Linked DNA regions of Homo sapiens: all the other regions are linked to region 3. Evidence: fine-mapped expression QTL. A gene starts in region 3. Each other region holds a variant in brackets. All regions are shown on one strand. Distances are between the middles of the regions.

Region 1 (8,092 bases), 79 kb after region 3:
CGCGGTGGGTCACACCTGTAATCCCAGCACTTTGGGAGGCCGAGGCGGGCAGATCACCTGAGGTCGGGAGTTTGAGACCAGCCTGGCCAACATGGTGAAACCCTGTCTCTACTAAAAATACAAAAATCAGGCCAGGCACGGTGGCTCACGCCTGTAATCCCAGCACTTTGGGAGGCCAAGGCGGGCGGATCACGAGGTCAGGAGATCGAGACCATCCTGGCTAACACGGTGAAGCCCCATCTCTACTAAAAACACAAAAAATTAGCCGGCCGTGGTGGCGGCCGCCTGTAGTCCCAGCTACTCGGGAGGCTGAGGCAGGAGAATGGCGTGAACCCAGTAGGCGGAGCTTGCAGTGAGCCGAGATCGCGCCACTGCACTCCAGCCTGGGTGACAGAGGTGACAGAGTGAGACCCTGTCTCAAAGAAAAAAAAAAAAATCTCAAAAACATAACCAAATTAAAAAACCAGTTTCCAAAATGAACAAAGGGCTGGGTGAAGTGGCTCATGCCTGTAATCCGAATACTTAGAGAGGCTGAGGCAGAAGGATCACTTGAGGCCAGGAGTTTGAGACCAGCCTGGCCAACATAGTGAGACCTGGTCTGTACGAAAAATTAAAAAAGCATTTAGCCAGGCATGCTGGTGCACGCCTGTAGTCCTAGCTACTCGGGAGACTGAAGCAGAAGGATCACTTAAGCCAGGCAGGTTGAGGCTGCAGTGAGCTACCATCACACCACACTCCAGCCTGGGGGACAGAGCCAGACCCTGTCTCCAACAAATAAATAAATAGGCCAGGCGCGGTGGCTCACACCTATAATCCCGGCATGATCCTTCCCTTTGGGAGGCCAAGGCAGGCAGATCACCTGAGGTCAGGAGTTCAAGACCAGTATGGGCAACCTGGTGAAACCGTGTCTCTACTAAAAGTATAAAAAATTAGCCGGGCGTGGTGGCAGGTGCCTGTAGTCCCAGCTACTCGGGAGGCTGAGGCAGGAGAATCGCTTGAAACTGTGAGGCGGAGGCTACAGTGAGCCAAGATCGCACCACTGCACTCCAGCCTGGGCGACAGTGAGACTCCGTCTCAAAAGTAATAAAATAAAAACAAAACTAAAAATAAGATGAAGACTTGAACAAAAACTTCAGCAAAGGGGACCTGCAGCAGGCACACAGCGCTAAGGAGACGTCCAGGCTGTGGCCACCAGCCAACTGCAAACTGAAACCATAACGAGATCCCGCAACACGCCCAAGATGAAAATCACGGGCGACAGGACTCCGATGCATCCCGGCTGAGAAGGCAAGGGGCCCGGCACGCTGGACAGTCAGGTGCAGAGTCAGGCACATACCACAGGACCCAGCAACCCCGCCCCCAGTGTCTCCCCTAACAAACTGAAAGTCTACGTCCTCGGGGGGCACGGTACACAAATGCCTATGGAGGAGGCTCCAGTCGTAACAGGCAAGATCTGGCAGCAAACTAAATATTCTTTAGCAGGTGAACAACCTGTGCTACATCCCTACAAAGAAATACTGCTCAGTGGCCGGGCACGGTGGCTCATGCCTGTAATCCCAGCACTTTGGGAGGCCCAGGTGGGTGGATCACCTGAGGTCAGGAGTTGGAGACCAGCCTGGCCAACATGGCAAAACCCCGTCTCTACTAAAAATACAAAAATTAGCCAGGCATGGTGGTGGGCACCAGTAGTCCCAGCTACTGGGGAGGCTGAGACAGGAGAATTGCTTGAACCTGGGAGGCGGAGGTTGCAGTGAGCCAAGATCACGCCACTGCACTCCAGCCTGGGCGACAGAGCGAGACACCGTCTAAAAAAAGAAAAAAAAAGAAATATTGTTCAGCAAAAATGCACAGGCACACACACCAATCTTCTAATGTTAGAAATTTTGGGACTGGCCAGGTGCGGTGGCTCACGCCTGTAATCCCAGCACTTTGGGAGGCCGAGGCGGGCAGATCATGAGGTCAGGAGCTCCAGACCATCCTGGCTAACACGGTGAAACCCCGTCTCTACAAAAATACAAAAAAATTAGCCGGGTGTGGTGGCGGGCACCTGTAATCCCAGCTACTCAGGAGGCTGAGGCAGGAGAATCACTTGAACCCAGGAGGTAGAGGTTGCAGTGAGCTGAGATCGCGCCACTGCATGCCAGCCTGGCCAACATCAAGACTCCATCTCAAAAAAAAAAATTTGCAACGTGCCGTGTGGCACTGTGCTAACCACGAGCACCTTGCGCAGTGAACTCTGGGACTCACGCATCTTCCCAGACTGAAATCTGTTATCAGTTGAACAGCAACTCCCAGCTCCCCTCCCCAGCCCCTGCCCACGGCCACCCTACTTTCTGCTTCTGAGTTTGACTGCCTCACAGCAGAGAGTCATGCACTTGGCAAAACGATAGGGTAAGGGTTTTGTTTAGTTTTGGTTTTTTTGAGACGGAGTCTTGCTCTGTCCCCCAGGCTGGAGTGCAGTGGCGCTATCTTGGCTCACTGCAAGCTCTGCCTCCCAGGTTCACGCCATTCTCCTGCCTCAGCCTCCCGAGTAGCTGGGATTACAGGCGCCCGCCACCACGCCCGGCTAATTTTTTTTTTTTTTTTTTTGAGACAGAGTTTCGCTCTTGTTGCCCAGGCTGGAGTGCAATTCCGCGATCTCGGCTCACCGCAACCTCCACCCACTGGGTTCAATCGATTCTCCTGCCTCAGCCTCCCAAGTAGCTGGGATTACAGTCATCCACCACCACACCCGGCTAATTTTGTATTTTTTTAGTAGAGACAGGGTTTCTCCATGTCGGTCAGGCTAGTCCCGAACTCCTGACCTCAGGTGATCCGCCCGCCTCGGCCTCCCAAGGGCTGGGATTACAGGCGTGAGCCACCGCACCCGGCCAATTTTTGTATTTTTAATAGAAACAGGGTTTCACCGTGTTGGCCAGGCTGGTCTTGAACTCCTGACCTCAGGTGATCCACCCGCCTCAGCCTCCCAAAGTGCTGGGATTACAGGCTTGAGCCACCGTGCCCGGCCTGAAACTCTACATTTTTATCCAGGCCTCCCTGGATGGATGTTGGGAGAGTTTACGCGTGGCCTTGTGGGATCGCTGTGGCGGACTCTCAGCTATCAGAGGGCTCCATCACTCCATCGTAAGGAGGCAGCTGGTGGCGAGTCCTGAGCAGGGATGTGATCCGACGGGCAGGCGGCGCCCGGGACAGAAGCTGACGTCACACAGGTGAGTCCCCCACCTCCCCACAGGCTTCCTCCACCCCCTCGGCAGCCCAGCAGGGCCTGTCAATCAGTGGGACCTGGTCAGCTGGCTGCTAGGGGACCTCAGGCAGGGGGGCTTGTCCGCAGGGCCTCCAGCAAGGGGGGACATTCATGACACCCAGCAGGGCTCAAGAAGGTGAGACAGAGGGACACTGAACCCAGCCCTTTACAGAAGACCTGAGTCCACCGAGGAAGGGGGCCAACCCCCTCCCCGCGTCTGCATCCCCAGGACCACCCCGGGTGGAGAGGGCCGAGTGTGGTGCCTCCGCGGGTGCTCTGACGATCGTCTCGAGCCACGGGGGTGACAGTGACAAGGACCTGTGTGCACGTTAGTGGGGCAGCCAGGCCTAGCTGGAGAAGAAACACACACACGCACACGTTCACCCACATA[C/T]ACGTGCACACACATGCTGCCAGTTCAGGGGGTGGAGGACGCTGACTCCAGGCCCAGCTGACCTGCGCGGGGCCCTATTGTGATGTGTGCAGCCACCCCATGACGTCACCGGTGCCAAGTGCCGGCTGTGTGCGGAGCAGTTGGAGACACAGTGGGTGTCCGAGGGGGGGCTCTGCGTCCGGAGGTGAGAGGTGGGTCTCAACACAGCTGCCCTCCCCCATGGTATGGTGACAGTCACTAACAGGTGGCCTGCGCTGGCCTCCACGTGGCTGCCAAGGGCCATCCCTGAGCACTCAGCGGGTGCCTGTTCCACACGGACTATGAAAATGACTGTCTCGTTCACCTCACGGCGACCCCGTGGGGTGGATACGAACTCACGCCATTTGACAGGCGAGACGTCCGAGGTCAGAGGGGAGGAGACGGACCCGACCTTCCTTGGCTGTGCTCTCCAGCCCTGTCCTGTGCTGGACCCAACCTAACCTCTGCAGCCTCCCTGCCCTGGACACAAATCTGGCTGAGACCCCAGACCCTGATGGGGCAGAGCCTGGCACTGGAGGAGCCACCAGGATGGGCCCCTGTGGGTGTGGGCAGAGGGTGATCCTCAGTTCAGGTTTTTGCCAGAAGATGGGTTCCTGCAGGAGGGGGTCTCAGCAGCTCAGACTTCAGATGCGCTCACTGCTGCTCACTGTGGGACAGCCAGACACGGAGCCCTCTGTTCTCCAGCAGTTGTGGACAATGAGGGATCCCTGGAGGGATGCCTGGTGGGCAGCAGGAGTCCCTCTTGTGGGTCAGGGTGCGGGGATGGGCTCTCCCTGCAGGGACTTCCCAGTCTTGTCCTCTGGGATTGGCAGTTTGCAGGGGTATCCTCGGCATCAGACCAGGGGGGCCACACAGGGACCCAGATCTATGGGGCCCAGCCCCGGGAAGACCAGATGGGCTCAGTGGAGAAGCTGACCACATCTGCTTTCCTTTCAGCCAAACCGGGGAGCGTCCCGGCACCCAGGCCTCTGCGGGTAACCCCAGGCATCAAGACCCTCCCTCAAGGGGAGGAGCTGGCTCTCCCCTGCCCATCAGCACAGCTCCAGAATCCCAAGGGGTCAGCTCCCACATGGGGGCCTGGTCCTGCCACACACTGGCCTAGCTGGGCTGTCCCCGAGGCCAAGGCCTAGCGGCATGAGGGGGCTTCCGTGGAGCCCAGGGCAGTGGGCTGCTCTCTGGAGTCCCTAGGACTCGGGGTGTGGCTGGCCTGTCCCCAGATCAGGACACACCCCAGGTTGTCCAGTGGTTCCCGTGCTGGAACTCCTGTTGAAGCCACCCAGGGACCTGGATGCTTCCCACAGTTCAGCATGGAGCAGGGGTGCTGGGCCCTGACCCCTCCACGTCTGTCCTGGACACCCCAGGACCACAGCACAGGCCCAGCCCTGCAACCCCAGCGGGGCCCTGATACCAGGCCCTGCCCAGCCCCGTAATGACCAAGAGGCAGGTCCAGAGATACCTCCTGCACAGGGTCACCTGCATCTGACGCCCCCAGCAGGCAGTGACCAGCACGGTGTGGAAGGAGCCAGGGTGGCACCCGGCAGCCCTAGAGGGCTCCTGGCCTCGGGAAGTCTATCGATGGGGAAGCTGGTCACTCGGAGGCTGCTGGGGAGAAGGGGGAGTGTGGCATTCCCTGGACAGAAGGGCAAGTGTGGCGTCCCCTGGAGAGAAGGGCGAGTGTGGCGTCCCCTGGAGAGAAGGGCGAGTGTGGCGTCCCCTGGAGAGAAGGGCGAGTGTGGCGTCCCCTGGACAGAAGGGGGAGTGTGGCGTCCCCTGGAGAGAAGGGGGAGTGTGGCGTCCCCTGGAGAGAAGGGGGAGTGTGGCGTCCCCTGGAGAGAAGGGCGAGTGTGGCGTCCCCTGGACAGAAGGGGGAGTGTGGCGTCCCCTGGAGAGAAGGGGGAGTGTGGCGTCCCCTGGAGAGAAGGGGGAGTGTGGCGTCCCCTGGAGAGAAGGGGGAGTGTGGCGTCCCCTGGAGAGAAGGGCGAGTGTGGCGTCCCCTGGAGAGAAGGGCGAGTGTGGCGTCCCCTGGACAGAAGGGGGAGTGTGGCGTCCCCTGGAGAGAAGGGCCAGTGTGGCGTCCCCTGGAGAGAAGGGGGAGTGTGGCGTCCCCTGGAGAGAAGGGGGAGTGTGGCGTCCCCTGGACAGAAGGGGGAGTGTGGCGTCCCCTGGAGAGAAGGGCCAGTGTGGCGTCCCCTGGAGAGAAGGGCGAGTGTGGCGTCCCCTGGACAGAAGGGGGAGTGTGGCGTCCCCTGGAGAGAAGGGCGAGTGTGGCGTCCCCTGGAGAGAAGGGCGAGTGTGGCGTCCCCTGGAGAGAAGGGGGAGTGTGGCGTCCCCTGGACAGAAGGGGGAGTGTGGCGTCCCCTGGAGAGAAGGGCGAGTGTGGTGTTCGCTGGAGAGAAGGGCGAGTGTGGTATTCCCTGGACAAAAGGGGGAGTGTCCCTGCAGCCCTGGCCAGCCAGCGGCATGCCCTGCTAGCTCTCCCCCAACCTCAGGGATAGGGAACCCTGACAGGGCACAAGTCCCCGTCCCAGAGGGGCCTGGCCCAGCCTCAACCCGGGCCCTGGGAGGGGAGGGGCACCAGGGGCGCTGTGGGCCCCCAGCAGAAGCCAGGATGACCACACAGGGGACTGAGCTGTCTGTGGCTGTGGCCAGACCTAGAACTTGGCCCAAGGCAGGGCAAGCCCCTTGGAGCAGAGTGGGTGGCAGAGCCTGTGTATACCCAGCAAGGCTGAGCCAGTGACACTACCAGGCTCCAAGAGCAACCAGCCATGAGGCAGGCGTGGGGCAAGGGTAGGGTGAGGGCAGGGGCGGGGGAGAGTGGGGCAGGAGCAGACGGACCAGCTGCCAACCTCGTCCACTCCAGGAGGCAGGGATGGCCAGGCTCCCACGCCCTACTGGCCGCTACCCGACCACCAATGAGGCAGAGGCCTGAGGCCAGTCGGTGCTGGAGCCCTACTTCCAAGGTCCACAGACCGCTTCAGGCCACAGAGCCGAAGAAAACTGGGCATGTGAAGGCCCAGGAGGCGGGGTCCCTATGTCTGCCATTCTTGGCAGGTGCATTTCACGCTGGGAGCAAGTCAGGAAAGGTGATGCCTCTCACCGCCAAGAAGGCTCCCAGCAGAGACCAGAGCCACCGGCACAGATCCCCAACCCCTGAAACCACCTCCCTCTGGAGGACCAGGACGCCCTCCTAGTTGGTAGAAGCACAGTAAGCTCTCTGTCCTTATGATCTGCCTGCTTGTCCAGAGCTCTCTGCCAGAAGCCGTGGACACTGGGGCAGGCGGGAGGAGAGAGCACCACAGCCCAGACCCCTGACCGGCCTCTCCCAACCTCCCCCTCCCAAAGGCTATGGAGAGCCCAGGGCTGGACAGGCCTGAGGTTCCGACATACCTCATGCCAGGCCACACGCGCACCGTGTCCCACCCTCAGCCGAAAACCAAGATCAAGACCATCCAATAATTTACTGTGATCCCATCTGTGCCCGACAAGGGCCCACAGAGGCCTGGGAGGGGAGCTAAGGGCTGGGGTTCCGGTGGCATTTGGGATGTTCAAGACAGTCTGTGCACAGCCTCCCTGGGAGGGTCTGCAGTCACCTCGGCCCACGGTCCCGGGGTGACTGGGCTCCAGCAGCCCTTCCTTCCTTCCTTGCTTCCGTCCTTCCTTCCTCCTCCTTCCGTCTGCACCTCCTTCCTGCATCCGGCACCTCCATGTCCTGAGCTTGTGCTGGGCGGGGCACAAGGGAGGCTGCTGACCGCAGGCCAGGAGACCGGCAGGGGCGGGGAGCCGGGGTCATCCGGTGGGCGTGGCGGCCGCCCTGGGAGTCCCCCTCACCTGCGTCAGGAGAGCACACACTTGCAGCTCATGCAGCCGGGGCCACTCTCATCAGGAGGGTTCAGCTTCCGCAGCTTGTGCTGCCGGATCTCACGCACCAACGTGTAGAAGGCATCCTCCACTCCCTGGGAAAGGAGGGATGGGATCAGGAGGGACCGGCCTGTGGCCGCCTGCCTGGGTGAGGGGCTCCCTGCTGTGGGATCAAGCCTTGCCTGGCCCGAAGCTCCCGACTCCACCAGCCACTTCCCCAGGCCCACCACACACACGGGAAGCTGGACTCTGGCCATCTCGAAGTGCCCAGGGCCACCCGCATCATGCTACAGCAGCCCCTCAAAGGTCAGGGTGGCCCGGGGCCCTCCTGAACTCCAGGTCTGGCCAGGGTTTGACCACCCTGCACCCAGCTCTCGACTCAGCTACGGCCCGTGTCCCCAGTAGCCCCACTAAGACTCAGAACCAACAGGTGCCCGTGGGACACTCTGGGGACAAGAGGGGCCGGGCCCCAGGGTCACCGCTCCGGCCTGGCTCAGGGCAGCTCTCCCCAAGGACCTCCGCCTTCCCCGGAGCTGTGTCGGCCCAGGACTGCAGGGCGT
Region 2 (8,100 bases), 61 kb after region 3:
GGGGCGCGGCCCCCGGAGAAAGCGGCCGCCTCGGGACAGGAGGGACCCGGGAGAAACCCCCCTGGGGCGGCTCCGCATGTCGGGGTCGCGACTCTAGGCGACCTTGGTAGAGGGGCTCGTTTGCGCCGAGCTCGCGACCCCCGAGGGAGCCACGGCCCCGTGAACCACGCTGCCCGTCCTGGCCACTGGCTGCCGCCTTTGTTTCGTGGGACCCCAGCCCGCAAGGCCTGCGGAGCCGCGGCCTCGTCCCGAGTGTTCTGAGCGCGGTCCGAGCTGCTCCTGCGTCCACTCTGCTGCCGACACCCGAGCGTCGCCTGGAGCCCTGGCACTGAGGGGCGCAGGCCGAGTTCCAGACCAGCCTGGGAAACGCAAAGCGACCCCACCTCCACAAAAGTGGGTTTTCTTTAAGTTTTTGACTAGTCCGCAATTCACAGAATTGACATTTTGGCAGATGAAGATTGCAAGTAAGGAAACTAACGGTATCTCAGATTTGTTCTTTAGCAATTTGCTAAACCTCTCCTCTGACTGCCTTTATTAGGTATTTGTTTTCGAGACAGGGTCTCACTCCACTGCTTAGGCTGTACTGCAGTGGCGCGATCCCAGCTCGCTGCAGCCTCCACCTCCCGGACTCCAGTGATCCTCCCGCCTCAGCCTCCCAAGTAGCTGGTACCACAGGCGCCAGCACGCCTGGCTAATTGTTGTATTTTATGTAGAGAAGAGGTCTCCCTGTGTTGCCCAGCCTGGTCTTGAATTGGGCTCAAGTGATCCTCCTGCTTCAGCCTCCCATATCGCTGGAATTACTGGCATAAGCCACTACACCCGGCCTGATCATCTTTAAAGAAGGTGGTTCTGGCCGGGCGTGGTGGCTCACACCTGTAACCCCAACACTTTGGGAGACCGAGAAGGGTGGATCACCTGAGGTCAGGAGTTCAAGACCAGCCTGGCCAACGTGGTGAAACCCCATCTCTACTAAAAATACAAAAATTAGCCAGGCATGGTGGTGGGCACCTGTAATTCCAGCTACTTGGGAGGCTGAGGCAGGAGAATCGCTTGAACACGGGAAGCAGAGGTTGCAGCGAGCCTAGACCACACCATTGCACTCCAGTTCGGGCAACAAGATGAAACTCTGGCTGGGCGCGGTGGCTCACACCTGTAATTCCAACACTTTGGGAGGCCAAGGCAGGCAGATCACCTGAGGTCAGGAGTTCAAGACCAGCCTGGCCAAGATGATGAAACCCCATCTCTACTAAAATTACAAAAACTTAGCCAGGCATGGTGGTGCATGCCTGTAATCCCAGCTACTCAGGAGGCTGAGGCAGGAGAACCACTTGAACCCAGGAGGCAGAGGTTGCAGTGAGCCAAGATCGTGCCACTGTACTCCAGCCTGGGCAACAAGAGCGAAACTCCATCTCAAAAAAGAAAAAAGAAACTCCGTCTCAAAAAGAAGGTGGTTCACACACACACACACACACCCCCAAGAAAGCTCAGGGCTGGAAGGCAGCCAACCTGGCTGTGACCCTCATCCTGCACACGTGAGCTTGGTGACCAGTAGCTGATTCTTTAACTCTCTAAGCTTTGGAGTCTGGATGTGAGGTTTAGAATTCATGACAAGAAGCTGGAAGGATGCCGCCAGTCTGACTCCTGGACTGGTTCTCTTGACATCTTTGCAAAAGCTGCTGAAATGTTCTGGTTTCATTTCATTCTTTTCTTTGCCATGATCTCTTAGATTTGTTCGTGGCAATTCTCATAAGAGTGAAGAAAATGTTTAAAATGGCTGTTGGGCTCCCTTTTGTGACACCTTGTGGGGAAGGTGCCCAGGTATGTATAGGTGCTGAGCGCACGGCCAGCATGGTGTCTGTGGCCGGGCCTCCCTCCTGGACAGTGCGGCCACAGCCCCTGAAAGGTATGTCTTCATTTTTATTTTATTTTATTGAGATGGAGTCTCGCTCTGTCGCCCAGGCTGGAGTGCAGTGGCGCGATCTCGGCTCACTGTAAGCTCCGCCTCCCAGGTTCAAGCCATTCTCCTGCCTCAGCCTCCCGAGTAGCTGGGACTACAGGCACCTGCCACCACGCCCGGCTAATTTTTTTTTTTTTTTTTTTTTTGTAATTTTAATAGAGACAGGGTTTCAGCGTGTTAGCCAGGATGGTCTCGAGCTCCTGACCTTGTGATTCGCCCGCCTCAACCTCCCAAAGTGCCTGGCCTTCATTTTTATTTTTGAACTTACCTGCCTCACCTCGTTATGTCTTTATCTTATTTTTAAACTTACTCAGTTCACCCACTGTGGAATTGGGAGTATATGGAAGTATTCCCACCCCCAGTTTTATATACCGCCCCAGAGCTGACCATTCTCGCTCATTTCCCCGGGTCCTGGCCGACTCGAGTGTGCCTTTCCTTCCGATCCTGCTCCACACAGATCTGAGGGATGCTGCCCTTTCCTTCTCCACCTGCCCCTCCCTCACATCCAGCCCCACCAGCCTACACGTTAGCTTAAATAGGGAGCTTTTACATTCCCCATGAAAGGGAATCCAGGGACAGGCTGAGGCAAGAGACCCCCAGTGTTCATGAGATGCCATCTAGAGAAAACACCGTGGTGCTGAAGGCCTAAGTCAGACCCCGGGGAGAGAGGCACCAGGGTGACTTTGGGTGGAGAGTCCTGTGCCTGTTCTACTTCTATAAATATACTCAGGTCAGGCACGGTGGCTCACGCCTGTAATCCCAGCACGTTGGGAGGCCGAGGCAGGCGGATCATTTGAGGTCAGGAGTTCAAGACTAGCCTGGCCAACATGGTGAAACCCCATCTCTACTAAAAATACAAAAAAATGGCTGGGCACAGTGGCTCACACCTGTAATCCCAGCATGTTGGGAGGCCAAGGCAGGCAGATCATTTGCGGTCGGGAGTTCAAGACCAGCCTGACCAACATGGAGAAACCCCGTCTCTACTAATAATACAAAAATTAGCCAGGCATGGTGGCACATGCCTGTAATCCCAGCTACTCGGGAGACTGAGGCATAAGAATCGCTTGAACCCAGGAGGCAGAGGTTCTGGTGAGCCGAGATCACGCCATTGCACTCCAGCCTGGGCAACAAAAAGCAAAACTCCATCTCAAAAAAAAAATACAAAAAAATGAGCTGGGCGTGGTGGCCTGCACCTGTAATCCCAGCTACTTGGGAGGCTGAGGCAGGAGAATCACTTGAACCCAGAAGGTGGAGGTTGCGGTGAGCAGAGACCACACCACTGCACTCCAGCCTGGGTGACAGAGTGAACCATGTCTCTAAATAAATAAATAATATGTTTGTCTGAAAGTGCCTTTTTAACAAAGTATGAGATGTGTACATAAAGTGCACATAGCGCAAGTGTCGCACGCAGTGGATTTTCACACGCAGCACGTGAAATGGGAAAACACTGGCCCGGCACGGTGGCTCACACCTGTCATCCCAGCACTTTGGGAGGCCGAGGCGGGCGGATCACAAGGTCAGGAGATCGAGACCATCCTGGCTAACACGGTAAAACCGCGTCTCTACTAAAAATACAAAAAATTAGCCGGGCGTGGTGGCGGGCGCCTGTAGTCCCAGCTACTTGGGAGGCTGAGGCAGGAGAATGGCGTGAACCCGGGAGGCGGAGCTTGCAGTGAGCCAAGATCGCGCCACTGCACTCCAGCCTGGGCGACAGAGCTAGACTCCGTCTCAAAAAAAAAAAAAAAAAGAAATGGGAAAACATTGAGGATGAAGTAGCAAATATTTGAGAATTCAACTTGATTGGTGGCTGTTGCAGGTTCATACGTGAGTGGTTACGTAGTGGGTAGTTAAACTGACAATGACCAGCTGAATTTTGGTGACAGGACTGCTCCTAAGGTTTGAAATGTAGCGTATCCTCTGATTCACGGGCTAAGCTCTGCCACTTAGCAGGAGGAGCTCATGATAGAGCAGGTTGAGGGGAAAACTTTGCCCCATAAGGGTTCTTCACTGCAAGTGAGAAGGTCTTGGCTTTGAGCCTCCAATTTCAATCAGACAGAAAGCAGACCAGTCGGCAGGACAGTATATGCCTCTGGAGATCCGTGCTGATGTGGGGGCCTCAGATACAAGATGCCTCAGGGCCCAGGCGTGACCCTCTCCTTCCCTCCTGCACGGAGATGCTGTGAGAATTAGACACTCCCACAGGGCCCTGTCAGACACTGAGCTAGCCTCTGGGAACCGGAAGATATTCAAAACACCAGCCACCCCCCACACACACAGACAAGGCGCTGGAGGGACAGCTGTGCAGCGGCAGAGCATGAGAGGTCTTGATCAGTTAACTCAGTGAGGTTAGGAGGCGAATTTTTTTTTTTTTGAGATGGAGTCTTACTTTGTCACCCAGTCAGGAGTGCAGTGGCGTGATCTCGGCTCACTGCAACCTCCGCCTCCTGGCCTCAAGTGATTCTTCCGCCTCAGCCTCCCGAGTAGCTGGGACTACAGGTGCGTGCCACCACACCCAGCTAATTTTTGTATTTTTGGTAGAGACAGTGTTTCACCACGTTGGACAGGCTGGTCTCAATCTCTTGACCTCGTTATCTGCCTGCCCTGGCCTCCCAAAGTGCTGGGATTATAGGTGTGAGCCACAAAGCCTTTTTGTTTTCATTTTTG[A/G]GATGGAGTCTCGCTCTGTCGCCCAGGCTGGAGTGCAGTGGCATGATCTCAGCTCACTGCAACCTCTGCATCCCAGTTCAAGCAGTTCTCCGCCTCGGCCTCCTGAGTAGCTGGGATCACAGGTGCCCGCCACCACACTTGGCTAATTTTTTGTATTTTTAGTAGAGATGAGGTTTCACCGTGGTGGCCAGGCTGGTCTCAAACTCCTGACCTCAAATGATCTGCCTGCCTCGGCTTCCCAAAGTGCTGGGATGACACTGAGCCACCGCGCCTGGCAAGGAGGTAACTTGATCCATACGTTTGCGTTTACATGGTGCGAGGAAAGGGCACCCTTGGTAGATGGAACAGCGTGTACAAAGGCCCGGAGGTTTAAAATCACCACTCTTCTAGCCCTCATACTAACTTTGCCTATTTTGAACTTTATATAAATGGAATTATATTGCATGTTCTCTTTTGTATCTGACTTCCTTTTCTCAATACTATATGAGTGGTATCCATGCCATTTAAAGTAATGGTGGATTAACTCAATGCTACGTCGCCTTCTAGTTGATGGAGGGCAGGCAAGACCCACAGTGGGGCTGAGCCCCTCGAGGGTTCCTGGCTTTGCCCAGGAAACAATTCAAGGGCAAGCTGGAAGTGAAAGTAAACAGGCCAGGCATGGTGGGAGTTACTACCCCTTTCCATGGCAATGACCCCACGACCCAAAAGTTACTACCCCTTCCCTAGAAACTTTTGCCTGGGCTGCCCCTTAATCTACATGAAATTAAAAGTGGGTGTAAATGTGGCTGCAGAACTGTCCTGAGCTGCTGCTCTCAGCACACTCTGCCCAGCACACCCCGCCTGCAGGGGCCGTCGCAGAGCTGTAACCCTGCCGCTTCAAGCTGTTTTGTTTTGTTTTTCTTTCGAGACAGTCTCGCTCTGCTCTTCCAGTTTGAATATCACGCAGGCTGGAGCGCAGTGGCGCAATCTCGGCTCACTGCAACCTCTGCCTCCTGGGTTCAAGCAATTCTGCCTCAGCCACCCGAGTAGCTGGGATTACAGGCACACGCCACCATGCCCGGCTAATTTTTGTATTGTATTAGAGACAGGGTTTCACCATGTTGGCGAGGCTGGTCCCGAACTCCTGGCCTCAAGTGATCTGCCCGCCGTCCGCCTCAGTGTCCCGAGGTGCTGGGATTACAGGTGTGAGCCACCGCACCCAGCAAAAGTGCTTTCTCGAGATGGAATCTGCGCCTGGTGAAGATGCTCTAAACATTGCTGAGATAACAAAGGATTTAGAATATTCCATAAACTTCGTTGGTACAGCAGCGATAGGGTTCGAGAGGATTTTCCAGTTGTGAGAGAAGGTCTGCTGTGGACAAAATGCTACCAAACAGCATCGCGTGCTACGGAGAAATCTTTTGTGAAAGGAAGAAGCTCAATGTGGCCAGCTTTATTGTTGTCTTATTTTAAGAAATTGCTGGCCGGGTGTGGTGGAGAATCACTTGAACCCAGGAGGCAGAGGTTGCAGTGAGCCGAGATCACGCCATTGAACTCCAGCTGGGCATAAGAGCAAAACTCCATCTCAAAAAAAAAAAAAAAAAGGAAGAAATTGCCACAGCCACCTCAGCCTTCAGCCACCACCACCCTGATCAGTCAGCAGCCACAAACAAGACCTTCCACCAGCAAAGAGATCCCAACTTCCTCAAGCCTCAGGTGATTGCTGGCACTTTCTATCAGTATCTTAGTTTTTTGTTTGTTTGTTTTTTAATTTTTGAGACAGAGTCTCACTCTCTTGCCCAGGCTGGAATGTAGTGGCACCATCTCGGCTCACTGCAACCTCCGCCTCCCAGGTTCAAGCGATTCTCTTACCTTAGCCTCCGGAGGAGCTGGGACTACAAGCACGCACCACCACACCCGGCTGATTTTTTTCCATTTTTAGTAGAGACGGGGTTTCACCATGTTGGCCAGGCTGGTCTCGAACTCCTGGCCTCAGGTGATCCGCCCACCTTGGCCTCCCACAGTGCTAGGATTACAGGTGTGAGCCACCACCCCCAGCCATTTTTTTTTTGAGACGAGGTCTTGCTTTGTTGCCCAGACTAGAGTGCAGTGACATTATCTCGGCTCACGGCAACCTCTGCCTCCCAGGCTGAAGCAATCCTCCCACCTCTGTCTCCCTAGTAGCTGGGACCACAGGTGCACACCCCCACACCCGGCTAATTTTTTGTATTTTTGGTAGAGACAGGGTTTCACCATGTTGCCCAGGCTGGTCTCCTGAGCTCATGCAATCTGCCCACTTGACCTCCCAAAGTGCTGGGATTACAGGTGTGAGCCACTGTGCCCAGCCTATTATTATTATTATTTATTGTTTTTTTGGTCTTGAGGGAGGGTAGGGTGGTGGGAGCCCAGTTGGGGAGGGAGTGAGGAGTGGTCAATAAAGTATTTTAAATTGAGGCATATGCATTGTTTTGTAAACATAATGTTATTGCACACCTGACTGCACTGTGGTATAAACATAACTTTTATATGCAGTGGAAAACCGAAAAATCCCTCCGACTGGCTTTATTGCGACATTTGTGTTATTGCGGTGTCTAGAACTGAACCGTGGTAACCCAGGCCCGCCTGTGCTAACTTCCAGCACTACCGAGGTTGACGCAGCTAGATGGTTTTCTCCCCGGCTGGTTGCTGCTTCTCACCCACAGAGGCGGTGGAGCCCTTGGAACTGGGCAGAACACAGGGCTGCCTTGTCACCACTGCCTGGCTGAACCTGAAATTGGGCCGTTTGACAGAAAGACTTGAAAGGGCCACCAGTAAATTCTTTTTTCTTTTCATTGATTTTCCTCTTCTTACTTTCCTCCTCCTGAAGTTGGGGTCATGTCCCAAGAAGACCCACAAGGCCTGGCCTGTGGGTGCACATGTGGGGAGGGTCAGGTCTGTCGGCTGAGGAGGGCATTGGTAGGGGACTTTGAGCAGTGCTGCTCCGGAGACACGAATGATGGGATGGGAGGCTCTCCCATATCTGCCGAGAGCACAGCACCCCATGACTCCTGGGAGCTTGTCATAGATGCTGCAGATGAGTCCTTCCTCAGACGGGATATTTGCTAATGCCTCTGCCAGCCTGGGCTTGTCTTCTCAGGGCCTTTCAAAATGCACACACCCTTCATTCTCATGATGTCCAGTGGATCAGGTTTTCCTTTATGTGTCATGCTTTTAGTGTTTAAGAATCATTTCTCTAACCCAAGTCACACTGACATCCTCCTTTTCATTCTTAACGCACATTTTACAGTTGTAGGCCTTACATTTTGGCTTATAATAAGTTCTGAGGCCAGGCACAGTGCTCACACCTGTAATCCTGGCACTTTGAGAGGCCAAGGCGGGTGGATCACCAGAGGTCAGGAGTTTGACACAAGCCTGGCCAACATGGTGAAACCCCGTCTCTACTAAAAATACAAAAAGTAGCCAGGTGTGGTGGCGGGCACCTGTAATCCCAGCTACTCCAG
Region 3 (8,100 bases):
CCAAACCCCTCCCGTCCTCATTGCAGGGACAACTCTGTCTCCTTGCTGCCTCCCCAACACCTCCAGGCCTTAACCATCTTGACTTGGGGAGCAGTCCTGCTGTCCACGCTCCCTCCAACAAGCCAGAGAAAACTCCCGGGCACAGGTGTGCGTGTGGCACGGTGAGTTTTTCTGTAATCCACTCACCTTTATGGATTTACCGCACCAGGGGAAATATTACAACAGGCATTTGTTACTTTACAAATTCCTAGGCTTCCTCTCCCTTCCTTGCAAGGGCATTTTTAGAAAGCATTTCGCCAACATTCACTATTTACCACCATAAATGTGACTCTGGCCAGCTCTGTCCCTGGGTAAGGCCAGAATTGACCATTTTCTTAAAAGTTCCAGCGCCCTGAGGCTTCTGGCAGGCATCTCTGCAGCTGAGGAAGGCTTCTGTCCCGTGCACCCTTCCCCAGGCGGGGGACCCCCAGTTCTGCTGCTCTGGGGCCTCAAAGAACCAAGTCCTCCAAGCTGCTCCACTGCCTCCTCACCAGCCACGGTGCTCCCTGAGCCACAAACCTCCGGCCTCACCCCTGCCCCTCAGGCCCACGTCTTGCAATGGACTCTGCCAGTCCACACATGCCTGGGTGGGGAGGGGTGTGCACTTCTGCAGCTGGGGTGAAGACAGGGACAGGGTAATGTGAGACTCAGATATGAGACGCCAGGTGCAAAACTGCAGGTGGAGAGCTCCCTGTAGAGTGCAGGGGTTCAGGGTAGAGGCTCTGGGGTCTGGAAAGAGCTGGGCGTAGCTGTCACCAACCTTTCTCTGCCTCAGTTTTTTTTTTGTTTGTTTCTTTTTTTTTTTTTTTTTTTTTTTTTGAGACGGAGTCTTGCTCTGTCACCCAGGCTGGAGTGCAGTGGCGTGATCTCAGCTCACTGCAAGCTCTGCCTCCCAGGTTCACACCATTCTCCTGCCTTAGCCTCCCGAGCAGCTGGGACTACAGGCGCCCGCCACCACGCCCGGGTAATTTTTTGTATTTTTAGTAGAGATGGGCTTTCACCGTGTTAGCCAGGATGGTCTCGATCTCCTGACCTTGTGATCCACCCGCCTCGGCCTCCCAATGTGCTGGGATTACAGGCTTGAGCCACCGCGCCCGGCCTTCTCTGCCACAGTTTTTTTGTCTCTAAGCGACAGTCAAAAATAGAACCTAAGGGGGTGTGTTAAGATCACAATAGTTGGCCCGGCGCGGTGGCTCACGCCTGTAATCCCAGCATTTTGGGAGGCCAAGGTGGGTGGATCACCTGAGGTCAGGAGTTCGAGACCAGCCTGGCCAACTTGGTGAAACCCCGTCTCTACTAAAAATACAAAAATTAGCCGGGCGTGATGGCGGGCGCCTTTAATCCCAGCTACTCCGGAGGCTGAGGCAGGAGAATCGCTTGAACCCGAGAGGCGGAGGTTGCAGTGAGCCGAGATCACGCCACTGCACTCCAGGCCTGGGTGACAGAGTGAGACTACGCTTAAAAAAAAAAAAATCACAATAGTTAGCATTTACAAAGCGTTGGGAATTCTACTTGGCACGTGGCCAGAGCTCCGTAGTGATGGGCAACGAACACGTGGTCTGCGCGCCCGGGGCCGCGCGGTCTGGCGGGGCCGCGCGGTCTAGATCACGCTACTCCGGGTCCCAAGGCCCCGCCCTCAGGCCCCGCCCACAGACCATGTCCTCGGCCCCGCCCCTCACGCGCCCTTGGGCCCCGCCCCCGAGCCGACAGGAACGAGCGTCATTGCGAGGCGGCCTCGCGCGCAGCTTCCTTGGGGCCAGGGACCCCAGTGGGGCCGGTACATCTCCCCGCCCCGGCCTCTGCACCCTGGAGGGACGGCAGGAGGGCTCTCTGTGCAGTTTGAGAGAACACCCATACGCAGGAAATGACCCCAACGCCACCGAGAGGGCGCCTGGAATGTGAGCGCCACCTGCTGGGATGGGAAGAGGTCTGGGAGGGGACCTGAAGGATGGTTCACAGGGAACCAGGCCTGTCGGGTGATTGCTGGAAAGATGGCATGGACGGGAGCTGGCTGCTCTGGCCACTCAGCCGACCCCAGCTGGACGCGGCCAGGGCCTGGGGCAGGGGGCCAGGCCTGGGGAGGCCCAACAGCACGCCCCCTGGAGCCAGCGCCTCCCGCACTGCCCAGCCTGTGTGTCAGGAGCTGGGGTGAAGGTCCCATCACAGTCAGGCCCCATCCCTGCTGGGCGTGGCTGTGCAGGAGCCCCGCAAATATGTTTATATATTTAGTATGTGAGTTATATTTCAATAAAGCTGATATGAGATATACTTCACATATCATGCAGTTCACCCATTCAACTCGTTTCGAGTGGACAGTTGAGTGGTTTTTAGGACATTCACAGATAGGAGCTGAGGTCAATATTACAGCACTTTCATCGCCCCGAAAGAAACCTGCTACCCTTTGTAGTCGCTCCTTATTACCCCTTCCCCAGCCCCCGGTGAAAACTCATCTAATTTCTGTCTTCATAGATTTGCATTTCCTGGACATTTCATACAAATGGATCACATAATGCGTAGTCTCCTGTGACTGGCTTCTTTCACCTAGCATTTTTTTTTTTTTTTTTGAGACGGAGTCTCGCTCTGTCGCCCAGGATGGAGTGCAGTGGCACAATCTCGGCTCACTGCAACCTCCACCTCCCGGATTTAAGGGATTCTCCCACCTCAGCCTCCCGAGTAGCTAGGATTACAAGCGCCCGCCACAATGCCAGGGCAATTTTTGTATTTTTAGTAAAGATGGGGTGTCACCACTTTGCCTAGGCTGGTCTCGAACTCCTGACCTCAAGTCATCCGCCCGCCTTGGCCTCCCAAAGTGCTGGGATGACAGGCGTGCGCCGCCGCGCCCGGCCTGCCTAGCATAATGTTTTCAAGGTCCAGCTGTGCTGTAGCATGCGCATGCTTCGCTCCTCTATGGCTAATAACATGCCGCTATTATCAAAATGCTGCAACTAGGAGCGCTAGTGTGTAAATTTGGCGTGGACACTTGTTTCCAGGTTTGAGGAGCTGCCACATTGCTTTTCAGAGTGGCTCAGGAGCTAATTTTTTTGCAGGGTACCATGTCAACAATTTGGGTCAACTAAAATCAGCGTGTCCGCACCATTTTCGCCCGCCCAATTTCACGCGATCCTGCGAAAGAATGACCCAGACCGGTCCGGGCGCGGTGGCTCGCGCCTGTAATCCCAGCACTTTGGGAGGCCGAGGCGGCAGATCACAAGGTCAGGAGTTCGAGATTGGCCTGGCCAACATAGTGAAACCCCGTCTCTACTAAAAATACAAAAATTAGCCGGGCGTGATGGCGGCCGCCTGTAATCCCAGCTACTCGGGAAGCTTGAGACAGAAGAATCGTTTGAATCCGAGAGGCGGAGGTTGCAGTGAGCCGGGATCGCGCCATTGCACTCCAGCTCGGGCGGCAGTGCGAGACTCCGTCTCAAAAAGGAATGACCCGGGTCGCATGGGGTGAAGGGTCGGGAAGCGCCCCAAAAGGAGAACGGGGCTGGGCTCCGGGATCCGTCGGCGAGGAAGGGGCGAAGGGGTGGAGGGACTCGGGCCAGGCCGCCGGGGATGTCTGTGGTTACCTCCAAGCTCTGGAGGCCTTGGCGAGACCCGCGCCATCCGCAGCTTGGTTCCTGCGACCTCAGCCGCAGGGCGGTCCGGCTCCGGTTTCCCAGCAACCAGGCGTCATCCTTCCCAGCAAGCACTGCGTCCAACCCGCGACGTCGGACCACAAGGCCCAGCATGCCCCGCGCGGACTACAAGCCCCACAATGCACCGCACACCCTTTACTGGCCGGCCCCGCGCTGCTCTCCTAAGACCCCGCGGGCCAGCGCCGCGACCCCTTCCCAGCGCTCCTCGCGCTGTGTGCGGCGCGTCCTCTCGCCGGTGACCCGGTGTGCGTGGGGTCGAGGCGCCGGGCGGAGTGGCTCCGGGCCGAAACGCCATGCGGAGGGGCGAGCGCAGGGACGCCGGAGGTCCGCGGCCCGAGTCCCCGGTGCCCGCGGGCAGGGCCTCGCTGGAGGAGCCGCCTGACGGGCCGTCTGCCGGCCAAGCCACCGGGCCGGGCGAGGGCCGCCGCAGCACCGAGTCCGAGGTCTACGACGACGGCACCAACACCTTCTTCTGGTGAGGGCAGTGGGCGGCCGCGGGGCGGCGAGGGTGCCCTCGACCTGGGGGTTCCGGCACCGCTGGCCTGGGGGTCCCCGGCAGCGCCCTCTCGCCGTCTTGGAGTCCAGGACTGTGGCCGGGGGTTTGAGGGTGTGGCAGCACCGCCCCCCGGGTCCCGGGGAGCGGCCGGACCGAGCTCCCGACGCCGGGTCGGGCGGAGGGCGGCGCTGTAGGTGGGGGAGACCCTGGGCAGACCCTCCCTGCGGCCGCTTTGCGTCTCTCTCGCCGCCCTCCCCACCCCTGCCCGCCTTGGCTCTGACCGCGCGGTTCTGCGATCCAGACCCCTTCCCCGCCACCCGCCTCCAGCGTCACCCCAGAAACGCTTTCTCTGTCCTGCTGTCGAAGCTTCACCTGTGTCCCCCGTCATTCTGCCTGTGGTTGCTCCTCAGTGCTTGCGGCTGCACGAAATCATCTTGTGTGTCGCGCCCGACCCCACGTGGCGATCGTGTTGATTAGCAGAGTGTTGTGCGTGCTTCAGGAATGTAGTCGGTGTTCGTCGAATCCAGGCTCTGTTTCTCTCCTCAGTTGCCCCTAGCGGGGCCAGCGCCTCCTCCCTGCACAACTCAGCCCTAGCTACACCTTGGGGTCCCCCTGTCCGCCACTCTGCCTTTAATGGGGGTGGAAAAGGAAGAGGCCCCCGGGAGCAGCTGGAGTGTGGCACTCTGTGTCCAGACAGGCTCCAGGTGCCGCTCCTACTCCCGACAGCTGCGACCCTGGGCTGGCCCTTTGCCGATGCTCCTCTGTGAGAAGGATCAAGCCGTCGACCTGAAAGCAGGCTTCGTGAGAGGAGGGTTTGGCTCTTCTTGACTGCAAGGTGCCCAGTTCCCATCCTGTGGAAGGCCCGGGGGCACAGGGGCAGTAGAGGTGGGGTCAGCCCCAGGAAAACGTGTGGGAGACAGGCGCCTGCGGCCAGCAGTGGAAGGAAGGCTTTATGGACGCTTCCAAGAGAACCATGCTGTGGGATGGTCGGAGAGCAAATCTGAGGGGCGAGGAGGGCCTGATGGAGGAGTAAGGGACTTGTCAGGGGAAGGCGCCACCACAGACAGGGACTTAACCGGTCCTGGCCTGTCACCGCAGCCGAAGCTCTGGAGAGAGACTGTCCAAGTGGTGGGAAAGCAGGTTAGGGTGGAGGAGGCCCCACGCAGGGTCTTCCGTGAGGTGTGGGCAGCTGCTGTTGCAGGGAGGGCATCCGAGCTCTCCTTTGGGGAGATGAGTGTACCGGGTGGCTGCGGGGCCCTCGGGAGGGAGAGGAGATGGGGTGCCTGCCACGTGGACCCTCTGGCTTCCGGGCCCTGTGGACATCAGGCCTCTCCATCAGGTGCCCTGCCACACCCCTTCAGGCTGTCCTCCCGCAGCACAGCTGGGGACCACCGGAGTCTCTGAGGTCCTGGAGCAAGGAGACCAGACTGGCTCTTCTGAGGTCCCGGAGCAAGAAGACCAGACGGGCTCCTCTGACATCCCGGAGCAAGGAGAACAGACGGGCTCCTCTGAGGTCCCGGAGCGAGGAGACCAGACTGGCTCTTCTTGTTTCTCATTTGGCCGTTCAGCACATTGTGGGGACCCCTACTGCCTGTCAGTTACCGTTCTACGGGACATAGCAGAGAACTAAACAAGAAGCTTAGATTCTGGTGCAGGCATGGAACTTCAGAAGGCTCAAAATGTGCTGGCTGGGTGCTGAGTGTGGCAGGAGCCAGGGGGCACATGCAAGCCTGCGCAGCCCACCCAGTACCAGGGAAGCAGGAGCAGCAGCCCAAAGGTAGGAGGGGGCCGGTCTCTTTAGAAGCCCAGACCAGTGGTCCCTGCCCACAAGGGGTGTTTGGGACACAGACGGCTGGGCGCAGCAGAGCTTGCCTGTCAGGAGGCCAAGGGGGTCAGGAGGGCTCTCCAGGAGCGGGTGCAGCGGGGCTGGCTGGTCCAGGTACCTCCTTCCTGGGTCTTCTGGGTGGGTGGCTCTGGCTCTGGCTTTCCCCTCGACCCTGTCCCTGTAGAGACGCATGGGGCAGGTTCTTGCTGTGCCTCCTCCCTTCCCTGTGCAGAGGAAGGAGCTTCACGCTTCTGGGTGGCAGGTAACTCAATGCCTGCCTGGTGAGAATTCATTACCTGCAGAGCCTCACACTGACCTCCTGAGTCCACCTGCACTGACTTGCTGTGCTGGCATTTTTTTAACTCTAATTTTGTGTTTTAGAGAGTTTTACTTTTTATTTTTTATTCATTTTTATTTATTTATTTATTTTTAATAGAGGGTCCCCCTGTGTTGCCCAGGCTGGTCTTCAACTCCTGGCCTCAAGTGATCCTTCCGCCTCAGCCTCCCAGATTGCTGAGATTACAGGCATGCACCACCACATCCAGCCAGGGCGTTCATTTTCAAGGATGGGTGCACTTCCTCGGGCCAGTGACGGCGGCCATGTGTGAATTTTGTTTCTCTGTGACTGCTTGTCAGCCATAGGGATAGGGCGTGCGGTTCGATTCAGGGCTTGACTGGCCCTGGGAGCACGAGGCTGAGCTCTCCTTCTCTGGATTCATTCAGGGTAGCAAGGACAATTATGGGGAACATCCAGAGGAAAACGTTTAGATCCACAGACTCCGAGAAGCCCTGTGCGAAGATGTGGCAGCTCATGCGGTCTGGAAATTGTTTGGGAGAACACTTGGGGACCCCTTACCCTGGCGAGGTGCCTGTGAACGTTGCCGCCTGTCTGTGGGAGACGCTGAAGCAGCTTCGGATGACCACACTTGCTAACCAGTTCCCGAGCTGGGGGCCACTGTGATGTTCTGAGAGTTTTTATTGTATGCTTGTGTCTTGGAATGGGGTGCCTCAAATGAGCCTTCTCAGTGACCTGAGGACTTTATGTGTGAGGTGACCTCTGACCTTCAGATACCCCAGGTTTCTGGAAGATGCCTTTCTCCATCATCCTGGATCGGGGCTTTCCCAGCTTTGCCTACACCTGGGAGGCGCGAGTAGCCAGATGAAGTCTTTCTGGTCTTGCTGGTCAGAGCCAGAAGGGCCAGTGCCCGGTCCAGGAGCCTCTCGCAGGCCTTGGGCTGCCCATCCAGGCGTGGCCTTTCCTTGGCCCTTTGGACGACGACGCCGCGTTTTCCTCTTGGTCTCGGCCTCCCTGCCCACCATGAGAGTGGACATGAGAGTGACCATCTCCAAGGAGGCAGCTGGGTCTTTTCCACTCCCCATGGCAGGGAGCCAGCTGTCTTCACGCCCTCACCCTAGTGAAGTGGCTGAATTGCCAGGATTGATCACAGCTCTGTTCTGTGTCTGATCACAGGACATACACCGTCCTGCAGAGTCTGCAGGCGGGTGGGAGGAGCCATTGAACAGACCTGGCGTCCTGGGAGGGACACGGAATTCTTCCCTTGAGAGTCTCATGCTATCTTGAGCGGCACTCTGTCACTTCCAAGATGTGTAGACGTCGTGCTGCGTGTAGGACAAGGACTGGAGCTCACTAATACGGACCTTACTTTCCAGGAGCGTTGGATTTGAGCAGCTCTGAGATGTGTCCTCCTGCAGGGCTGCTGTGCCTGGTGCCCTTTCTCTGGGTCCCTTACCCTCTGCCTCCCTTCCTGTTGGGTCCTCTTCATTCCCATTTCTGCTTCCCCAGGGCCAGGAGGGTGCTGGGCACTCGGTGGCCACCTCAATGACAGTGTGCACATTTACCTGAAGGGGCGAAGGGTTACCTTTATATTTCAGGTAATCTCTGTGTTTTGGGGAAATGGAAAGATGGTGTTGGGTTAGGGTTGATCAATGATCAGCGTTTCCCTGGGCTACACAAGGAGTGAGTGTTGGGTTGGTGGCCACTTTAGAAACCACAGGAAGGTCTCTGTCGTGGAAAGTCGTATTAAAGGAGTCAAGTTTTACGCCTGTAATCCCAGCACTTTGGGAGGCCGAGGCAGGTG
Region 4 (8,100 bases), 38 kb after region 3:
GCGCTGCTCTATTTATCGTGGTGCCCAAATTCTTTTGCCAAAAGGAATTTCCACGTGGTTCCTGTATTGCTTTCACACACCCTCACGGAGTTCTTGGCTTTTCGTTTTGTTTTTCTGAGGACATCCTGACTTCCTAGCACTGCGGGATGCTCCAGGCTCCTCCTGTCCACTCCCCACCCTGGTCCTGGAATCAGCCCCTTCTCCAAGAGCCTTGGGTCCTTACTGAATATTAGGAACTGAGGCCTGGGTGTTGGGTGGGCTGCGTGGTCCTGGGTGCCATAGCTCACAGAGGACGGGCATGTGTGCACTCACTGTGTGTGCAGGCGTCTGTAAACACAGCCAGTGCAGGGGTGCGTGTGTGCTGTGTGCGCAGGAGAGTGTAAACAGTGCACGGGCGCGTGTGTGCTCACTGCGCAGGCATCTGTAAATAGTGCATGGGCGTGTGTGCTCACTGCGCAGGCATCTGTAAACAGTGCATGGGCATGTGTGCTCACTGTGTGCACAGGCGTCTGTAAACTGCACGGGCGTGTGTGCTGTGTGTGTGCAGGCGAGCGTAAACAGTGCACGGATGCGTGTGCTCACCGTGTGCGCAGGCGAGTGTAAGTGCACGGGTGTGTGTGCTGTGCGCAGGCGAGTGTAAACTGCACGGGCGCGTGTGCTCACCGTGTGCGCAGGCGAGTGTAAACAGTGCACGGGTGCGTGTGCTCACTGTGCGCAGGCGTCTGTAAACAGTGCACGGGCGTGTGTGTGCTCACTGCGCAGGCGAGTGTAAACTGCACGGGCGCGTGTGTGCTCACTGTGTGCGCAGGCGAGCGTAAACTGCACGGGCACGTGTGCTCACTGCGCAGGCGAGCGTAAACAGTGCACGGGCGCGTGTGTGCTCACTGTGTGCGCAGGCGAGTGTAAACTGCACGGGCACGTGTGCTTACTGTGCACAGGCGAGTGTAAACAGTGCACGGGCGCGTGTGCTCACTGTGTGCGCAGGCGAGTGTAAGTGCACGGGCGTGTGTGCTCACTGCGCAGGCGAGTGTAAACTGCACAGGCGCGTGTGTGCTCACTGTGCGCAGGCGAGTGTAAACTGCACGGGCGCGTGTGTGCTCACTGCGCAGGCGAGTTTAAACAGTGCACGGGCGCGTGTGTGCTCACTGTGTGCGCAGGCGAGTGTAAGTGCACGAGCGCGTGTGTGCTCACTGCGCAGGCGTCTGTAAACAGTGCATGGGCATGTGTGCTGTGTGTGTGCAGGCGACCGTAAACAGTGCACGGACGCGTGTGTGCTCACCGTGTGCGCAGGCGAGTGTAAACAGTGCACGGGTGTGTGTGCTCACTGTGCAGGCGAGTGTAAACTGCACAGGCGCGTGTGCTCACCGTGTGCGCAGGCGAGTGTAAACAGTGCACGGGCGCGTGTGCTCACCGTGTGCGCAGGCGTGTAAACTGCACGGGCGCGTGTGCTCACTGCGCAGGCGAGTGTAAACAGTGCACGGGCGCGTGTGTGCTCACTGTGCGCAGGCGAGTTTAAACAGCGCACGGGCGCGTGTGTGCTCACTGCGCAGGCGAGTGTAAACTGCACGGGCGCGTGTGCTCACTGCGCAGGCGAGCGTAAACAGTGCACGGGCGCGCGTGTGCTCACCGTGCGCGCAGGCGAGCGTAAACAGTGCACGGGCGCGCGTGTGCTCACCGTGCGCGCAGGCGAGCGTAAACAGTGCACGGGCGCGCGTGTGCTCACCGTGCGCGCAGGCGAGCGTAAACAGTGCACGGGCGCGCGTGTGCTCACCGTGCGCGCAGGCGAGCGTAAACAGTGCACGGGCGCGCGTGTGCTCACCGTGCGCGCAGGCGAGCGTAAGCAGTGCACGGGCGCGCGTGCTCACCGTGTGCGCAGGCGAGTGTAAACAGTGCACGGGCGTGTGTGTTCACCGTGTGCGCAGGCGAGTGTAAACACAGCTGGTGCCCTGGTGCGTGTGTGCTGTGAGCACAGGTGTCTGTAAATGATGTAAACCTCCCTTGACGTCAGGCCCAAAAGCCTGCCTTGCCCTAAGGTCAAGAGGTGTATCTGGCTGATGCCAGCGTCTGGGTGAGGAAAGAGCAGGTTCCACAAGGGCGACTCCTGTGAGGGTGTTGGCCTGAGCGCGCATGCGGGGAGGGGTCGGGGTGGGGGCGGCGCGCCGCAGTAACTCAGGGCCCCATCCCGCTCCCGTCTGTCCAGCGGTCCTAGACCCCCATGTCCTGAAGCGCACCTGTGCCCACCTGGCCCCGGGGAGCGCAGGTGTGGAGATGGGGTGTCGTGCCTGGGGGTTCCTTCCCCACGCGCTGCCCCACCAGGATTTCCCTGGGGTGGGGAGGGCTGCTGAGACAGGGCGCTGCCCTCCTCCAGGGTGACTGAGATGCAGTTTACAACCATGATCTCCTGGCCGGGCGTGGTGGCTCACGGCTGTAATCCCAGCTCTTTGGGAGGCCGAAGTGGGCGGATCACGAGGTCAGGAGATCAAGACCATCCTGGCTAGCACGGTGAAACCCCGTCTCTACTAAAAATACAAAAAAAAAATACTAGCCGGGCGTGGTGGCGGGCGCCTGTAGTCCCAGCTACTCGGGAGGCTGAGGCAGGAGAATGGCGTGAACCCAGGAGGCGGAGCTTGCAGTGAGCCCAGTTCACGCCACTGCATTCCAGCCTGGGCGACAGAGCGAGACTCCATCTCAAAAAAATAAAATAAATAAACAACCATGATCTCCCGTTTCAAGTTGCCACCACTAACTGTAGCCCCGCTGACGGGGGCACTGGCCTTGCAGACTGTCCAGGACGGCCGGCAGTTTCTAAAGTATGTTGACCCCAAGCTGGGAGTCCCACTGCCAGAGAGAGACTACGGGGGAAACTGCCTCATCTACGACCCAGACAATGAGACTGACCCCTTTCACAACATCTGGGTAAGACGCCGGGGGCCCTGAGGCGAGCCCCTCCCCAGGTGTGGCCCCGTGCCGGACCAGGCGCCATCCACGCTCCTGCCTCGCACCCCTCAGCCCACACTTGGGGTCTCCTGGTGCAGAGATGTGCTGAGGCCCTGTCCGTCTGGATGGTGCTCATGGTGGGCAGGGGGCCCCTGCTCTCTAGGCTGTCGTGGACGTGGTCTCCACAGGCCACGGCAGCACCTGTGAGTCCCTGGCCTTCTTCCCGGGGTCTGGCAGGTGCTGCTCAGGTGTGGGCTGATCTGCCGGTGTGGGGAGTGGGGGTGGCTGTGCCCCAGGGTCAAGGGTCATACCCTGTCGCCCACAGGACAAGTTGGATGGCTTTGTTCCCGCGCACTTTCTTGGCTGGTACCTGAAGGTACGGCACCTCCTCTTCCCGGCCTCCCCGCCCCGGTTCTGAGGCCTGCCGTGGGCTCTGGACCGTTTCTGTCCATGGAGTTGAGCTCAGGGTGCTCTGAGTGTGGTGGGAGGGTGTCGCACTGCAGCCACCCAGAGGTTCGAGAAGCCGTGGGGCTCCCGGACCTCCCAGAAGCCCTGATCCTGGTCGGGTCCCCGCTCCGTCCTCAGGGTCGGGGCGGTGGAAAGAGGCGGCAGGGCAGGAAGTCCCGCCCCTGCCTGGGCTTGGGCACTGCCCCATCCCACTTCTGAGGGACCCTGTGCTACCTATGGGGCTAAGAGCAGTGCCTGCTTGACCCTGCAGCCCACCCTGGCAGAGTTTGGTGTCAGGCCCCGGGCACGGGGATGCTGCCTTGTTTGCTGACAGTCGTACATCGAGGCTGCTGGAGGGGCAGCCACCCACCCCACGCTCACCCTGAGACCTCACTGGGGGCCCTGCCAGTGCTGTCGACTCCAAGAATGCTGCCAGCCGGGGTGGGGGCTGCACGCACCCGTGGGCAGGGCCGGGCGTGGCCTGCGTCCCATACTCTGGCTGCCAGCCGGGTGGGGGCTGCACGCACCCGTGGGCAGGGCCGGGCGTGGCCGGCGTC[C/G]CATACTCTGGCTGCCAGCCGGGGTGGGGGCTGCACGCACCCGTGGGCAGGGCCGGGTGTGGCCGGCGTCCCATACTCTGGCTGACCCTGGCGCCCACAGACCCTGATGATCCGAGACTGGTGGATGTGCATGATCATCAGCGTGATGTTCGAGTTCCTGGAGTACAGCCTGGAGCACCAGCTGCCCAACTTCAGCGAGTGCTGGTGGGATCACGTAGGTGCCAGCACAGCCCCCGGGGCAGTCGGTGCAGGCTGAGGGGCATTCTCGGAACCCCTGTGCCCAGCGCGGCCCCTGGACCCCCTCATTCTCCCCGGGGGGCAGTGGGTGCAGGCTGAGGGGCATTCTCGGTTCCCCTGTGCTCTTCCGGGGTCCTCCTCGGGGGGCTCGTTACCCCTCACCCCTGCAACGAGTGCTGGCCCCTCCCTGCAGTGGATCATGGACGTGCTCGTCTGCAACGGGCTGGGCATCTACTGCGGCATGAAGACCCTTGAGTGGCTGTCCCTGAAGACGTACAAGTGGCAGGGCCTCTGGAACATTCCGACCTACAAGTACGTCGTGGGGGCTGCGAGGGCAGGGCCGGGTGGGGGTTACCTGGAGGCAGCCTCAGCGTCCGTGCTCCAGCAGACCCCGAGCACCAGGCCCGTCCAGTGTGCGGCTCAGGAGGGGTGACCGTGGGGCTTTGCCTCCTGGAACCTCCCTCTGACCTGGTGTCACTCAAGCCCGGCCGCCCCTCACAGTGGCCATGGCGTCTGACCCACGTACCTCCCTCCTCAATCCCTGGCCGGCCTGGCGCAGGGGCTGTGGGATCATTCCGTGCTTCTCCCTCCCTTGGTTGCTTTGGTTATGAAATAGTTGCAGGTACTTTGTCATTATGACTTTGGAATTTAAAAAAGAAACAGAAGTCTAAGGAAAGGCCTGGGGGACGGGGGTCTCCCCTCCTGCCTGTGGGTGCCCCGGCTCTGCCTGGCTCTGCAGACATGGCTAGCTCACGGCACCGTGGAGCGCCCTCTGAGGCGCTGCAGCCACTGCTCAAGCTGGAAGAGACTGAACAGCAGAGGGCCGTGGAGAAGCAGGGCTTGTAGCTGGGTGGCCAGACCTCGGAGAACAGCCGGGCAGCAGCTGGGTAACCAGGAACAGAGTCTGTGGCCCGATGGCACAGGGCGGGGCGGGGTGACCAAGAGCAGAGCTCGTCCGATGGCACAGGGCGGGGCCGGGTGACCAGGAACAGTCTGTTGCCCGATGGCACAGGGCAGGGTTCGGTGGGCTGCCTTCCTCAGGCTGCCGGCTCTGTGGTTCCCAGGGGCAAGATGAAGAGGATCGCCTTCCAGTTCACGCCGTACAGCTGGGTTCGCTTCGAGTGGAAGCCGGCCTCCAGCCTGCGTCGCTGGCTGGCCGTGTGCGGCATCATCCTGGTGGTAAGGCCGGGCTGCCTCGCGACGGCGCGGCGGGCGGGGGGCCAGAGCTGGTGCTCACCCTCTCCTCCCCTAGTTCCTGTTGGCAGAACTGAACACGTTCTACCTGAAGTTTGTGCTGTGGATGCCCCCGGAGCACTACCTGGTCCTCCTGCGGCTCGTCTTCTTCGTGAACGTGGGTGGCGTGGCCATGCGTGAGATCTACGACTTCATGGATGACCCGTGAGGGCTGCGGCAGTCCGGGTGGAGACACCCCCGGGGGGCAGGGGCCGGAGGGCTGGGGAGCAGAGCCTGGGAGGCCGGAGCCTGGGCAAGTCCGCCTGGAGGACCCTGCGGGGCCCGGGACGCTGAACCCCCTGCTGCCCCTGCAGGAAGCCCCACAAGAAGCTGGGCCCGCAGGCCTGGCTGGTGGCGGCCATCACGGCCACGGAGCTGCTCATCGTGGTGAAGTACGACCCCCACACGCTCACCCTGTCCCTGCCCTTCTACATCTCCCAGTGCTGGACCCTCGGCTCCGTCCTGGCGCTCACCTGGACCGTCTGGCGCTTCTTCCTGCGGTGAGTCAGGGCAGGGCGCGTATGTTCTGAAGGAGGGCCGCTGTCCGGGTCCCTTGGCACAGGCACTGTGGGAGTTTGGTGTCGTTGGTGTCTCACTGTCCCTGCTTCAACCCTCTGGCCGCCTCTGCGGGAGGCGCCTTTCCTGACCCAGCCCTCGGGGCCTTCGCTCTGCACTGACAGATCCAGGCTCCTCAGGGCTCCAGTCTGCCACGGCTGCCGTCCCAGGGCCAGGGTACCCGGCACCCACCCAGTCCATTCCGGACCTCCACAGGGACTAGGTGCCAGCTGTCCATGGGGCCTGCAGTGGGGCTGGTGTGGGGGCAGGTGGTGACGCTGCATCCCGCTCCCCAGGGACATCACATTGAGGTACAAGGAGACCCGGTGGCAGAAGTGGCAGAACAAGGATGACCAGGGCAGCACCGTCGGCAACGGGGACCAGCACCCACTGGGGCTGGACGAAGACCTGCTGGGGCCTGGGGTGGCCGAGGGCGAGGGAGCACCAACTCCAAACTGACCTGGGCCGTGGCTGCCTCGTGAGCCTCCCAGAGCCCAGGCCTCCGTGGCCTCCTCCTGTGTGAGTCCCACCAGGAGCCACGTGCCCGGCCTTGCCCTCAAGGTTTTTTGCTTTTCTCCTGTGCACCTGGCGAGGCTGAAGGCGAGGGGTGGAGGAGGCCCCAGCACAGCCTCATCTCCATGTGTACACGTGTGTACGTGTGTATGCGTGTGTGTACGCGTGTGTACGCGCGTGTGTACACATGCGTGGCCGCCTGTGGTGTGCACGTGTGCTCTGGGCTCCGAGGCTTCTCCAGAGCTGGGAGCTGGCTGGCGTGGCAAGGGCATGCTCTGGGGCAGTGTGTCCCTCAGGAACCAGGGTCCTCCCTCCCCTTTCTGCCTGGTCAGCCCCGTGGCCTCTGGCCCACCAAGCTCCCTGTCACCCAGCCATGGTGTGGTCCAGGCAGGGACATCTCGGTACCCTTTCTGCACTCCGTGGGCCCTGGGTGCGCTGAGGCCTGGAGGCGTCTACACTGGCTCCACATCCACTTCCCCCGCAGCTCGTGTGGGCGCTCGTCCACAAACACTCCGTGGCTGAGAGGCAGCGGATCCAGGCAGCGATGCTGAGCCACCTCCTCCGAGCCTTCCTTTCACACAGACCACCCCGGAGGACACGTGGATGATGGGGTCAGAGATCACTGAGCTGCCCCTCAAGGGGGCCTGGAACCCGGGTGCTGGGGTCATGCTGCCTCCGTGGCTCCAAGGTGAGGGTCATCTTCACGAGCAAAGAGAACCAATAAAGTGACAACGAACGTCTGAGGCTTCCAGCCCTCCCCCCAGCTCCCCGTGTCCTGCTTTGGGGTCCAGTGCAGCCCTCCAGCCTGCCCTCATGCCCAGTGCCCACTTGGGGAAAACCACACAGAGGACAGGAGGCACTCAGCCTCTGCACCTGAGCAAAGACTTGGCGCCTGCCCCGCCCCACCCCCCAGAGAGAGCAGGTGCCAGATGCAGCCCCTCTCCCATTCTCCAGGAGGGTCCAGGTGGCACCCACCCTCTGCTGCGCTTGTCCAAGGGCTGGCGGCCACTGGGCAGTGGACACAGGATTCCTGGGGTACTGTGTTTGTCCCAGGCTGGCAGACACTGGGCAGTGGACACAGGATTCCTGGGGTGCTGTGTTTGTCCCAGGCTGGCAGACACTGGGCAGTGGACACAGGATTCCTGGGGTGCTGTGTTTGTCCCAGGCTGGCAGACACTGGGCAGTGGACACAGGATTCCTGGGGTGCTGTGTTTGTCCCAGGCTGGCAGACACTGGGCAGTGGACACAGGATTCCTGGGGTGCTGTGTTTGTCCCAGGCTGGCAGACACTGGGCAGTGGACACAGGATTCCTGGGGAGGGGCAGCCGCCTTCTCGGGCCACTATTTTTATGTTTTTTTTTCTTTTTCTTTCCTTCCTTTTTGTGGAGAACGGGGTCTCGCTATATTGCCCAGGCAGATCTCGAACTCCTGGGTTCAAGTGATCCTCCTGCCTCTGCCTCCCTGAGAGCTGGGATTACAGGCGTGAGCCACCATGCCCAGCTTGAGCCACTATTTTTTTGAGATGGAGTCTCACTCTGTCAGCCAGGCTGGAGTGCAGTGGCGTGATCTTGGCTCACTGCAACCTCTGCCTCCTAGGTTCAAGTAATTCTGCCTCAGCCTCC

Direction of the effects. Alleles are on the strand shown, and positions count from the first base shown. SD is a standard deviation of normalised expression in the study named. Not every link is listed here.
For the expression in lung of the gene that starts at base 3,797 in region 3, C is the low allele of the variant in region 4 and G is the other (large effect, 1.0 SD a copy in GTEx).

The links.
Region 1: its variant is fine-mapped to the expression of PTDSS2 in cerebellum (GTEx, PIP above 0.99).
Region 2: its variant is fine-mapped to the expression of PTDSS2 in whole blood (TOPMed, PIP above 0.99).
Region 4: its variant is fine-mapped to the expression of PTDSS2 in lung (GTEx, PIP above 0.99).

What each region holds. Positions count from the first base shown.
Region 1 is chr11:525,129-533,220 of GRCh38, forward strand. HRAS (HRas proto-oncogene, GTPase) reads right to left here. Exons shown (of 6, transcript NM_005343.4): 5 at 7,503-7,627; 6 at 7,114-7,394. The coding sequence ends at 7,508. It also overlaps a transcript of LRRC56 not described here. Among named protein-coding and RNA genes, the nearest start is that of HRAS, 6.4 kb to the right of the region's middle. RefSeq lists an enhancer at 3,377-3,914. The variant C/T (reference allele first, on the strand shown) is at 3,636.
Region 2 is chr11:507,634-515,733 of GRCh38, forward strand. It overlaps a transcript of LRRC56 not described here. Among named protein-coding and RNA genes, the nearest start is that of RNH1, 4.4 kb to the left of the region's middle. The variant A/G (reference allele first, on the strand shown) is at 4,622.
Region 3 is chr11:446,483-454,582 of GRCh38, forward strand. PTDSS2 (phosphatidylserine synthase 2) reads left to right here and starts at 3,797. Exons shown (of 12, transcript NM_030783.3): 1 at 3,797-4,155. The coding sequence starts at 3,974. RefSeq lists enhancers at 1,425-1,564, 3,297-3,983, 3,582-3,861 and silencers at 1,575-1,864, 1,955-2,264, 3,892-4,131, 4,322-4,381, 4,392-4,481.
Region 4 is chr11:484,158-492,257 of GRCh38, forward strand. It overlaps PTDSS2 (phosphatidylserine synthase 2), which reads left to right. Exons shown (of 12, transcript NM_030783.3): 5 at 2,782-2,916; 6 at 3,263-3,313; 7 at 4,042-4,155; 8 at 4,372-4,490; 9 at 5,243-5,357; 10 at 5,431-5,576; 11 at 5,726-5,911; 12 at 6,263-7,242. The coding sequence ends at 6,425. Among named protein-coding and RNA genes, the nearest start is that of RNH1, 19 kb to the right of the region's middle. RefSeq lists an enhancer at 180-701 and a silencer at 3,711-3,851. The variant C/G (reference allele first, on the strand shown) is at 3,942.